2 separate regions of the Homo sapiens genome follow, and region 1 is linked to region 2. Evidence: fine-mapped expression QTL. Tissue or cell type: whole blood. Region 2 holds a variant in brackets; the other region holds the start of a gene. All regions are shown on one strand. Distances are between the middles of the regions.

Region 1 (5,144 bases), 30 kb after region 2:
CCCGGCCTCAGCTCTGAATTCTTATGCAGCTGGGACTCACGCAGACGCTACCGACTGTTCCGCAGAGCAAGCATTTTTCTCCTCCAGAACTAAGTGAGCTGGGGAATGCCCAGGCCTGCCTGGACCCTCAAACCCCAGCGGACAGTCAGAGAGAGCTGCCCTGAACAGCCACAGGTGCCTTCCCTGGCCACAGCCTTACCCTGAGCAGCAGGGAGGCGGCAGCGAGCAGACACACCGCCTCCACCCTTAAGGCACACACATGCACACACACACCCGGGCCGGGGAAAATGCAGGCCGGGCGGCCAGCGTCAGAGGCTGACCAGTTGTGTCCTGTCAGGAAGCGGGCAGCCTCTGAACTCACCCAACCAGAGGCGTTACTGTATTGTTCTGGACACAATCGAAAAGACTGGGCCAGCCCCGACTGCGGGCAAGGGGCGGTGGAGAAACGGTTGCCACTGGGGTCAGGAGGACAGGGAAAGGGAAGCGGCTCTTAGGCTGGATTTGGGACAGGAAAGGAAGCGGCGGCCGCGGGGGCCCGACCCTCAAATCCACGGCGTGCGTGGAGCTGCGAGCACGTGGTCGGCGCAGGAAATCTCTGCGGTGGGGAGGGGTCGCCAATGCTCGCGCGGCTGCTGGGACTTGCGACCCCCTTGTAGGAGGCTTGGGGTCGGGCTGCGGCGCTGCAGCGCTCGCTGCCAGCAAAGCAAAGGCGTACTGAGGCCCTGACTAAGAGGGAAGTCGCGGAAGGAGGCCCGGGTGGGCTGCGGTGAGGGAACCCCGCTTCCCCAGCCGCGTTTCTTTCTTCGCAATCTTTGCGCGAAGTCAATGGAGAAACAGCCAAAGCTCGAGTTACTTCCAGGAGAGGCAAAGGAGAGGCAAGGACGCGGGACCCAGCACAGAGCTCACTGCACAAACGGCGCCGTGGGAGAGGGGCCTCTAGAGGGATGGGGACGCCAGGGTCTCCTGCAGCCCAGGAGCGCCGGTATTCCAAGGGCCGACTTTTCTGAGCCCAGCCTCCCCTTGCCCTAAGGAGACCGGCTGGAAGCGGCGCTGGCAGGCCAGGGGGCAAGGATGGGATGACCCCAATTGAAGGGACAAGGCCAGCCAGGTAAATCCGGAGACTCCTCCAGCCCAGTCCGGGACGCGACCGTAGTGGTTAGGACCACAGCCCCCTCCTGGGCCACGAGCGTCGATCTTTCCTGAGCATTCCCCGCTCTCACCCTTCTCAGGTCCCCAAAGTCCGCAACCCTAGTCCAGGCTGGAAATCCGGGGCGTGGGTGCCCTGCAGGCGTGCTCTCCACTTCACCTGTGCAGGTGAGTGGGCGCCTGCGGTGCCTTTCTCTGGGGTGCGCCTGTCCCCCGCAGCCCCTTCCCGCCTCCACGCTCCTGGAGCCCCAGTCTCTCCCCTGCTCCTCCAATCTTCCCCTCTGGGGGCCTGAACCCAGGCCTGTCCAGAAATCTCTGAAGTGGGGGGATAGCCCCCTTCCCCCTGCTCCCACCCCTCCCGTCTCGCCTCCCTTCGTCCCCAGTCCCGGCTCGGACGGAACTGGCCTGGTAGGGTACTCACAGGGTAACGGTGCCGTTAGGCAGAAGGCCGGGCTCGGGAGGCTCCGGGAGGTCCCCGCCGCTGCACACCACCCTCCGCCGAGCCGGGCCAGGGACGCCGCCGCTCAGCCCCTTGGGCCGCTCCCCCGAGCACTTGCAGCTGCGGATGGATAGCGGGCAGCCGGGCGCGCCCCGAGCCTCGGGCGCCAGGAGCAGCAGGAGCCACGGCAGCAGCGGCAGCAGCAGGCGCGCGGGCGCCCCCCGCATCCTGCGTCCCCCGGCGCCCATCAACCCATCGCCCCGCGGGGACCCACAGCGCTGGGGCCGGGCTGCGCGCCGGCCGGAGGGACCCAGGCGTGCGGGAGGAGTGCTCAGCGGGGGCCCGGGGCTCCCGAGGGCGTGGAGGGGGGCCCTGGGCGGAGGCGAGCCCCGGGGTCCCCGCCGCCGCGCCCCGGGGGCATGTCCTGCGAGCGCCCCGGCGGGGAGGACGTCGGCGCGGCTGTCAGCGCAGCGCGGGCAGCTCCCAGCTGCGCGGCCGGAGTCTCAGCGCCCGGCCCTCGGGACACTGGAGGCCCGGCCCCTCCGCGTCGCCTGCTCGCTGGGCGCTGGGCTGGGACCTAGCGGATCGCGCCGGGCTCCTGCTGCCGCCGCCGCCGCCGCTCCGTGCCATGGATGGAGGCAGCTCCGCGCCGCGCCGCTCCCGCCGCCGGTCCCCGCCCGCCCGGGCCTTCCGCGGGGCCCTAGCGCCGACCGACACGCGGCCAGGCCTAGACCCTCTGCCGAGTGGGGGCGGGCCAGCTGGTTCGAGGACCCTGCGTCCCCGCGCCCGCCCTGCACCAACACTCCTCTCCCGCTTGTCCCCGCGCCCCGGGCCAGGACCCTTCCTTTCCGCAACCCATCTCAGACCTCTGAGCCGACCACCACCACCTTCCACAAAATTTCCCTCGTCCGTGCCGGTGCAGCTTGCGTCTCCAGGCTGCTGGGGCCCTCCTGGACCCGCGGGCTTGGACAGAGACGTCTGGGGCGCCCTGTTTTGGGTTGAACTTGGTGGAAGGCTCCGAGGTTTCCTTTGGCCCCTGACACGATGATCAGTCTGGAAGTCGGCTCTCACTCTCCTTCCAGCTCCGGTGGAGGCAGCCGCAGGAGGATGGCAGCCGAGACAAGGAGGCAGCAGACCCTCCTCCGCTGCGGTGACCTCGCTCAGCGGGGGGTGCATGTCATTCGGCCAAGGAGAGGTCAAAGGCCAAGGCAGACAAGGCTAGAGGCTAGACTGGGCCTCCTACATTTTCCACAACGCTGTGTGTGTGTGTGTGTGTGTGTGTGTGTGTGTTTCGGGGACAGTGAGTGGGACAAGGGAAAAGTAGATGAGAAGGAGCAGGGCTTTGCAGCAGGGTGTGGAAAGAGCACTGCGCAGTGAGTCTGGAGACCCCTATTCCAGACTCGGCTCTGCCTCTCATTACTGTCTGACCTTGGACACAGCCCCTAGCTTGCTGGGGTAGCAGATCTCTGGGGTTGAAATGGGGCTCTGCCTGCTCCCCAGTTTATAGAGTGGCATTAGATGCCCAGTAAATCGTGGCATTAGAATAAGAGAGTGTGGTGGGGGGGAGGGGCACATGGTTTCCAAAGGCAGAGGACTGGTGGTGGCAGGGGTGACCTTGACAACTAGTGGTGGGTATAAAGCTGCCTGCAGGCCGGGCGCGGTGGCTGACACCTGTAATCCCAGCACTTTTCGAGGCCGAGGCGGGCGGATCACTTGAGGTGAGGAGTTTGAGATCCACCTGGCCAAAATGATGAAACCCTGTCTGTACTAAATATACAAAAATTATCCGGGCGTCGTGGTGGGCGCCTGTAATCCCAGCTACTTGGGAGGCTGAGGCACGAGAATTGCTTGAACCCAGGAGGCGGAGGTTGCAGTGAGCTGAGAGCGTGCCACTGCACTGCAGCCTGGTGACAAAGTGAGACTCCGTCTCAATAAATAAATAAATTAATTAAAAAAAAAACAGCCTGCAGTACACCGGAACCAGGGCTGGGGACAGGCAGTAAGAAGTGCAGCCCAGGGGTCTGCTTCCTCTGTTTCCCCACAGAAGCTCACCTTTCTGTTGCTTAATAGAGCTGCCGGGATGGGGCAGGACTCCCGTTCCCCCTCCTTCACTCTACCACCCAAGCGGTCCCCAAGGTGAATGCCACATTCTTTAGTGAGCTTAGCCCTGCTGATGTGCGGTGGTGCCTTTTCTAGGGCCCCTGTGCCTGTCAGCCAAGTCTACCCTGACTATGCAGGGAATGGCTTTCTTCTCTTGCCCGTTGGCGTTGGCGGCAGGCAGGGGCCTAGATGTTGGCTTCTTCACTTTCCCTCCCTGGCTCCACAGATCTCCCCCAGTTGCAGGCTCTCTGGTTCCTTGAACTTCCAAAGATAAATAAATAGTGATTGCAAATGGAGGAAGGGAGAAGGGGAATGGACTCCCCCAGCAGGAGCCCTCACAGGCGGTGGCCCAGGCTGCATTCCTCAGGAAAGAGCTGACAGCAGAGCCACAGCCCATAGGCAGGGCTGTGCAGCCCTCCTGCTCACAGGCAAGGAAGACTCTGAGATCTCTGGCCTGGGTCATATAGCTTTTCTGTGATTTCCTTTGGCTAAATGAAGACACTCAAAGTCTAAAGAAGAATTCTACTGGAACACCCACTCCTGGAGGCTGAACAGAGGCCAAAGGACATTTAATGAGGCGAGGCTTCCCCACCACTAGGAATGAAATGTCTGATGGAGACATCTACAAAACACTGGACTGTCCTGAGGGTCACCACATTTGACTTCTTACCCACCCAGGGAGGTGATGAAGTGGAGGTTACTTTCTTATTTTGCAAGTATGGATGAAGAAACTGAGTCACTGAGACTAGAGTCCAAGGGTAGGAACTTACTTTCTGATTCCTTTTTTTGTGTATGTGTGAGACAAGGTCTCTCTCTGTCACCCAGGCTGGAGTGCAGTGGCAGGAACACGGCAGCCTCGATCTCCTGGGTTCAATCCTCCCACCTCCGCCTCCCAAGTAGCTGGAACTACAGGTTTGTTATTGCATGCAACTAATTTTTTTTAATGTTTTGTAGAGATGGGGATCTCGCCATGTTGCCCAGGCTGGTCTCAAACTCCTGGACTCCAGCAATCTGCCTGACTTGGCCTCCCAAAGTGCTGGGATTACAGGTGTGAGCCACCATGCCTGGCCATGAGCATGTTTGTCTGTTTGTTTGTTTGTTTGTTTGTGATGGAGTCTAGCTCTGTCACCCATGCTGGAGTGCAGTGGCACAATCTCAGCTCACTGCAACCTCTACCTCCTGGGTTCAAGTGATTCTCCTGTCACAGCCTCCCAAGTAGCTGGGATTACAGGCGCCTGCCACCATGCCTGGCTAATTTTTGTATTTTTAGGAGAGACAGGGTTTCACCATATTGGCCAGGCTGGTCTCAAACTCCTGACCTCAGGTGATCCACTCGCCTTGGCCTCCCAAAGTTCTGGGATTATAGGAGTGAGCCACCGCAACCTGCCATGAGCATGTTTTAATCCTTTTTTCTTCTTATTTCTAGTATACCGTGCCCGGCCATGGTTCCTTTTTAAGT
Region 2 (5,144 bases):
GAGCTAGGAAGAGATACTCACACAACCTTAAGGGCTGGCAGCTCATCAAAGACCCCAGGTTGCAGACTGGAGAAGATGTTTCCAGATATGTTTCTGCAGGGAACAGGGGACAACTGAGATGGGGTCTTAGGGTGTCCATGGGCCGGCGGAGGAGAGCAGGTGGGATGTGGAAGGGTTGGGGGCCACATTTTGCTTCCTATGCACTTCTTCCCTCTCCTCCCCTCCCCACTTCTCACCCCATCACTTACAGTCGGAGAAGCCTGGGGAGGCCCTGGAAGGTCTCGGAGGTGAGACAGCCAATCCGGTTGTTGGAGAGATCTCTAGAGAGACACAGGCAACCTCAGCATGTTGGCCACGTGGCAGCACGTGGGTCCACTTGTGAGGAACACATGGGTGGGGCCAGGGCTTGTGTTGGGGGGTGGGATGAAAAAGGAGATGAGGTTGGGGCCAGGCCGCAGCTGGACTGGAAATGCCAGCTCCTTTGACCCCAGCCAAGGCACCCAAGCGGAAAGGAGGGGCAGGTGTGGGGGGGTGAGAGGAAGGGGGTGGGCATGGAGCAGGAGGGGTGACTTTCTCCCTCGGGAGGGGAGGGGTGGGGTCAGGGGAGGGCGTGCCACTCACAAACGCTTCAGCTCCCCCAGGCCCAGGAAGGCGCCCGGCTGCACTGTGCTGATGATGTTGTTCCTCAGGTCCCTGCAGAGGCAAGTGCAGAGGCCCTCACACCTCTCCCCGCTGGAGCCGCCCTGCTCCCCGGGAGGGGTCCTCACTGTCACCACGGTGTTGTTGCTGGGTTTCTCAGGGACTTGACTTCCTGCTAAACCTCTGCTCTCCTCAGCACCGGGTGGGAGGTGGGATTAAAGAACCACCCCTGATCAAGGCCATCCTGGCCAACATGGTGAAACCCCGTCTCTACTAAAAATACAAAAAAAAAAAAAAAAAATTAGCCAGGTGTGGCAGTGTGCACCTGTAGCCCCAGCTAGGCAGGAGAATTGCTTGAACCCGGGAGGCGGAGGCTGCAGGGAGCCAAGATCGCGCCACTGCACTCCAGCCTGGGCGACAGAGCGAGACTCCATCTCAAAAAAAAAAAAAAAAAAAAAAAGAACCACCCCCTCGGACAGGCCTCCTCCGCCTCCCTGGCTACCATCAGCGGGCACTGGTCAGAACAGAGAGAGGAGACGAAGAAGCCAAGAGATGGGATCACAAGGGCCTCAGACAACATGGAGAGCGTCCTGGATTGGAAGTTAGGAGGCCTCCTTTCCCACCCTGCCCCACCTCCGGACTGCCCTGCAGGTCGCTGGGGTTGCCCTGGGAAGCATTTGAAAATAGGTGTCATGGTGTTTTGTAAATTGCTATGCAAAGGTAGAAGCTTCTTGAGCCTGGCCTTTGTGGGCAGGGGAGGGGACGCATGGGAGGGGTAGTTGTTTTGTTTTGTTTTGTTTTTGAGGCTGGGTCTCTCTGTCATCCAGGCTGGAGTGCAGTGGTGTGATCATGGCTCATTGTAACCTCAAATTCCTGGGCCCAAGCCATCCTCCAACCTCTGCCTCCCAAGCAACTGGCACCACAGGTGTGCGCCACCACACCCGCTAATTTAAAAAAAAAAATTTTTTTTGGTAGAGACAGGGTCCCACTATGTTGCCCAGGCTGGTCTTGAACTCCTGGGCTCAAGTGATCCTCCCTCCTGGGCCTCCCAAAGTGCTGGGGTTACAGGTGTGAGCCACCGCGCTTGGCCAAGGAGGGTATTTTTATGGCTGTTTTATCCCTGTGCCCCTCTCTGTCTGACAGGCGAGGAAACAGGTCAGGCGGCTGGCCGAGGCCCAGGTGGACTCTGCCTGGCTCCTCTCCAGGGCAGGGGTGTAAGTCCTGTCCAGCCTCCTCCTTCAGATGAGGAAGCCAGGGAAGTGACAGCTTGTTCAAGGTCCTCAGTCCTGTCTTCTCCATGGGTCTCCGCAGGAGCCCGCAGTGTCGGGAGACAGGACAGAAGGGGGCTGTGACCCCCCAGGGATCCCAGGGGCCAAGCCTGGCCTGGAGGAGTGAGCGGCAGGTAAGTCCGCAGCCTTCCAGCCCTGAGTCTGTGGCTCAAATTCAATCATGGCCTAGGCACAACTCTCTGCCCCCTTCCTCACCTGCCCCTGGGGCTGCAGGGACAGTGCTGAGGAGACAGTGCCCACCCACAGGCGACCTGCTGGGTATCTGCCTGCCCTAACCCCACACCTGCCAGGGCAGCCCCCTGGGCTCTTGGGGCAGGCAGGACCACAGAAGACCAAGGTGGGTGCCTGCTCACTGGCCTTCTCCCTCACCCTGTCCTCTGTGCCCTGCACAGCCAGGGACAGATGCCTAGAAGGCAGAGTGGGTGGGGCCAGTTGCCCACCTACTCAAAGGCCAGCTGGCTCTTTCCTGAGCTAAACCAGGACAGGCTTCAGGCTCCATAGAGCTCATGGGCCTCACAGCCCAGTGGGCCTCCCTGTGCTGGGTCTGAGATGGAGGCAGTGGCCTCTTGGCTCCCACCCACTGGCAGGAGATTGTGAGGCAGCAGGCAAGGGTGGGTGGACCCCTGGAGCAGGCAAGGGTGGGGGCCCCCTGTCTGAAGGGGCTGTGGCGGGAAGACAGGAGATCCACAGAGATTTCTGGGGCCCACTTGCTTTCCCAGGCCTTACCACCCCTCAGCCCAGATGGAGGAGGGGGTCAGGGTTGGGGGCTGAGGGGACTCTTGGCCCTGCCACCCCTCAGCCCAGATGGAGGAGGAGGTCAGGGGTGGGGGGCTGAGGAGGCTCTTGGCCCTGCCCACCACAACCTCATCAACGTCTCTGGATTACTGGGCAGGAGGGGGTTAACCAAGCCGGCTGCCCGCTGGGAGGAGAGGAAATGGGTGTTCAGGA[C/T]GGGGAGGTACTGTCCCACCAGGGGGCCTGTTTGTGCACAGTCCCGCTTGGGGACAGAAACACTGTGCACAGCCCTTCCCACGGCCAGGGGAGCCCTCACCCTCAGCTCCTTCCCATAGGAAGGACTCGAAGGACTCAGCCGGCCTCCATGACCCCAAGTCCCTGGAGAAGGAAGGGAAGGGGCCACCAGAAGGGGCCAGTTCCCTAGAGGAGGGATGGCTTCCATGCTGGGGTGTGCTGGGAGGTGCCCCCCAGTGAGGCGCACACAGGGACCGTGCCAGGACACTGATCCTAGGCCCCTGGCCGAGGGAGAGGGATGCAGGATAAGTATCCTGGCTGCCAGGGGTGCCCCTCTGGCCCAGCCCCCACCGTTTTGCCGCCAGACCCCATCCTCACTGCCTGCCCCTCTGGGACTGTCCCAGCATGTGCCCCCTGGCCCCTGTTGGGGTCTGGCCATTCTCAGGGCTCAGCCTCCCACCCCCACGTGGGGGACGGGCAGAGGGAAACACATTCCTCATTGTGTCACTTCCCTTCATGGGCTGCCAAGGGGCTTAGGCGCAGCCCCCCTTCCCTCCCCGCTCACTTGTGTTTATTCTCATTTCCTCCCCGGGCCCCCTCAAAAGCCCCCACCCGCCTGCCCCACTGATGCTCTGCAGATGGGAGCGAGGCGGCGTCCAGGCCCCAGCCCCTCTTCCTGCCCTCGATTTCCTGCAGCCCAGCCATGCTGGGGCCTTGGAGAGGGCACCTCCACCTCCACGGAGGGTGGGCATGCCTTCTCCCTTGCCTCAAGCCCGCCTGGGGAGGAGCCTCGGGGTGACCAAGGCAGCCCCCACGAGTGCCCTTGGGAGCTGGCCTGTCTCGGCTCCCTGGGCTGAGCTCTGAGAGCCTGAAGGACCCATGGGAAGCCGATGCTGCCTGGTCCCTCTGGGTAAGAAGCTGTGTCCTCCCTCGGGGCGGGAGAAATGCTACCATAAGACTTGGACATTTTTGGGACCTGCAGGTCTCCTATAGATTGGTTGTTTTGAGCCTTTTTTTTCTTAGCACATCCTTTTGAAGATCTACGAAGGCCATGAACTTCTGCCCGAGAAAAACTCACTACACCCATCACTATGCATACAATTTCCAGAGGGGCATAGAGCCCAAGTTAAGAAGCCCCGGCCGGGTGCGGTGGCTCACACCTGTAATCCCTGCACTTTGGGAGGCCGAGGTAGGCAGATCACCTGAGGTCAGGAGTTCGAGACCAGCCTGGCCAACATGGTGAAACCCCGTCTCTACTAAAAAAAAAAAAAAAAAATTTAGCCAATGTGGGGGTGGGCGCCTGTAATTCCAGCTACATGGGAGGCTGAGGCAGGAGAATCACCTGAACCTGGGAGGTGGAGGTTGCAGTGAGCTGAGATTTCGCCACTGCTGCACGCCAGCCTGGACGACAGAGTGAGACTCTTAAAAAAAAAATGACAGAAGTCCTTTGCTGGATGGTCTGATCTGATCCCTCCGTTTCTCAGGTGAAGCTAGAGTAGCTTGTGGAAGCACGCGCAGATATGCTTCCACAGAGCCCTGTCCTTGGAACCTGGGAAAGACGCAGGGTGTTGAAGGCACTTCCCCTCCCTGCTACCCATTGCCCCTTGACTCCAGGCCACCCCCTCCCTGTATCTCTGTCAATATGCAGGAGGATTCCCCTAAGCCAGATGTGGAGGGAGGATTCCTGGGAGCAAATCATGCCCTATGCCGTTGTTGGGAAAACAGAGGCTTTGGGAGCTGAGTGTGTAAGAGTGAGTTTGTGAGCAGAAGCAATGAAAGGAGGAGGGAGTAACGGATGAATAAAAGTTCAGAAAAAGCAAAACGGGGTGAAATAGGAAACAAAGCAGATTGTTAAGTTGAATTTAATAACAACTTAAAAATTTTACACCTTTGGCCAGGTGAGTGGCTCATGCCTATAATCCCAGCACTTTGGGAGGCTGAGGCAGGTGGATCACCTAAGGTCAGGAGTTCGAGACCAGCCTGGCTAACATGTTGAAACCTTGTCTCTACTAAAAATACAAAAAATTAGCCGTGTGTGGTGGCGGGAGCCTTGTAATCTCAGCTATTCAGGAGGCTGAGGCAGGAGAATCGCTTGAACCCGGGAGGTGGAGGTTGCAGTGAGCTGAGATCACACCATTGCACTCCAGCCTGGGCAACAAGAGCAAAACTCAGTCTCAAAAAAAAAAAAAAAAAAAAATTGCACCTTAGAGGATACCATCAAGAAAGTGAAAGAGAACCACAAAATGAGAG

What was found. PIP is the estimated chance that this variant, and not a neighbour inherited with it, causes the effect.
Region 1: ADGRA2 starts here. The variant in region 2 is fine-mapped to the expression of ADGRA2 in whole blood (TOPMed, PIP above 0.99).

What each region holds. Positions count from the first base shown.
Region 1 is chr8:37,793,958-37,799,101 of GRCh38, reverse strand. ADGRA2 (adhesion G protein-coupled receptor A2) reads right to left here and starts at 2,219. Exons shown (of 19, transcript NM_032777.10): 1 at 1,568-2,219. The coding sequence starts at 1,833. RefSeq lists silencers at 1,605-1,694, 1,975-2,144, 2,155-2,394 and enhancers at 2,658-3,223, 3,224-3,789.
Region 2 is chr8:37,824,437-37,829,580 of GRCh38, reverse strand. It overlaps ADGRA2 (adhesion G protein-coupled receptor A2), which reads right to left. Exons shown (of 19, transcript NM_032777.10): 3 at 622-693; 4 at 249-320; 5 at 22-93. Among named protein-coding and RNA genes, the nearest start is that of BRF2, 23 kb to the left of the region's middle. RefSeq lists enhancers at 467-1,435, 1,752-4,009. The variant C/T (reference allele first, on the strand shown) is at 2,877.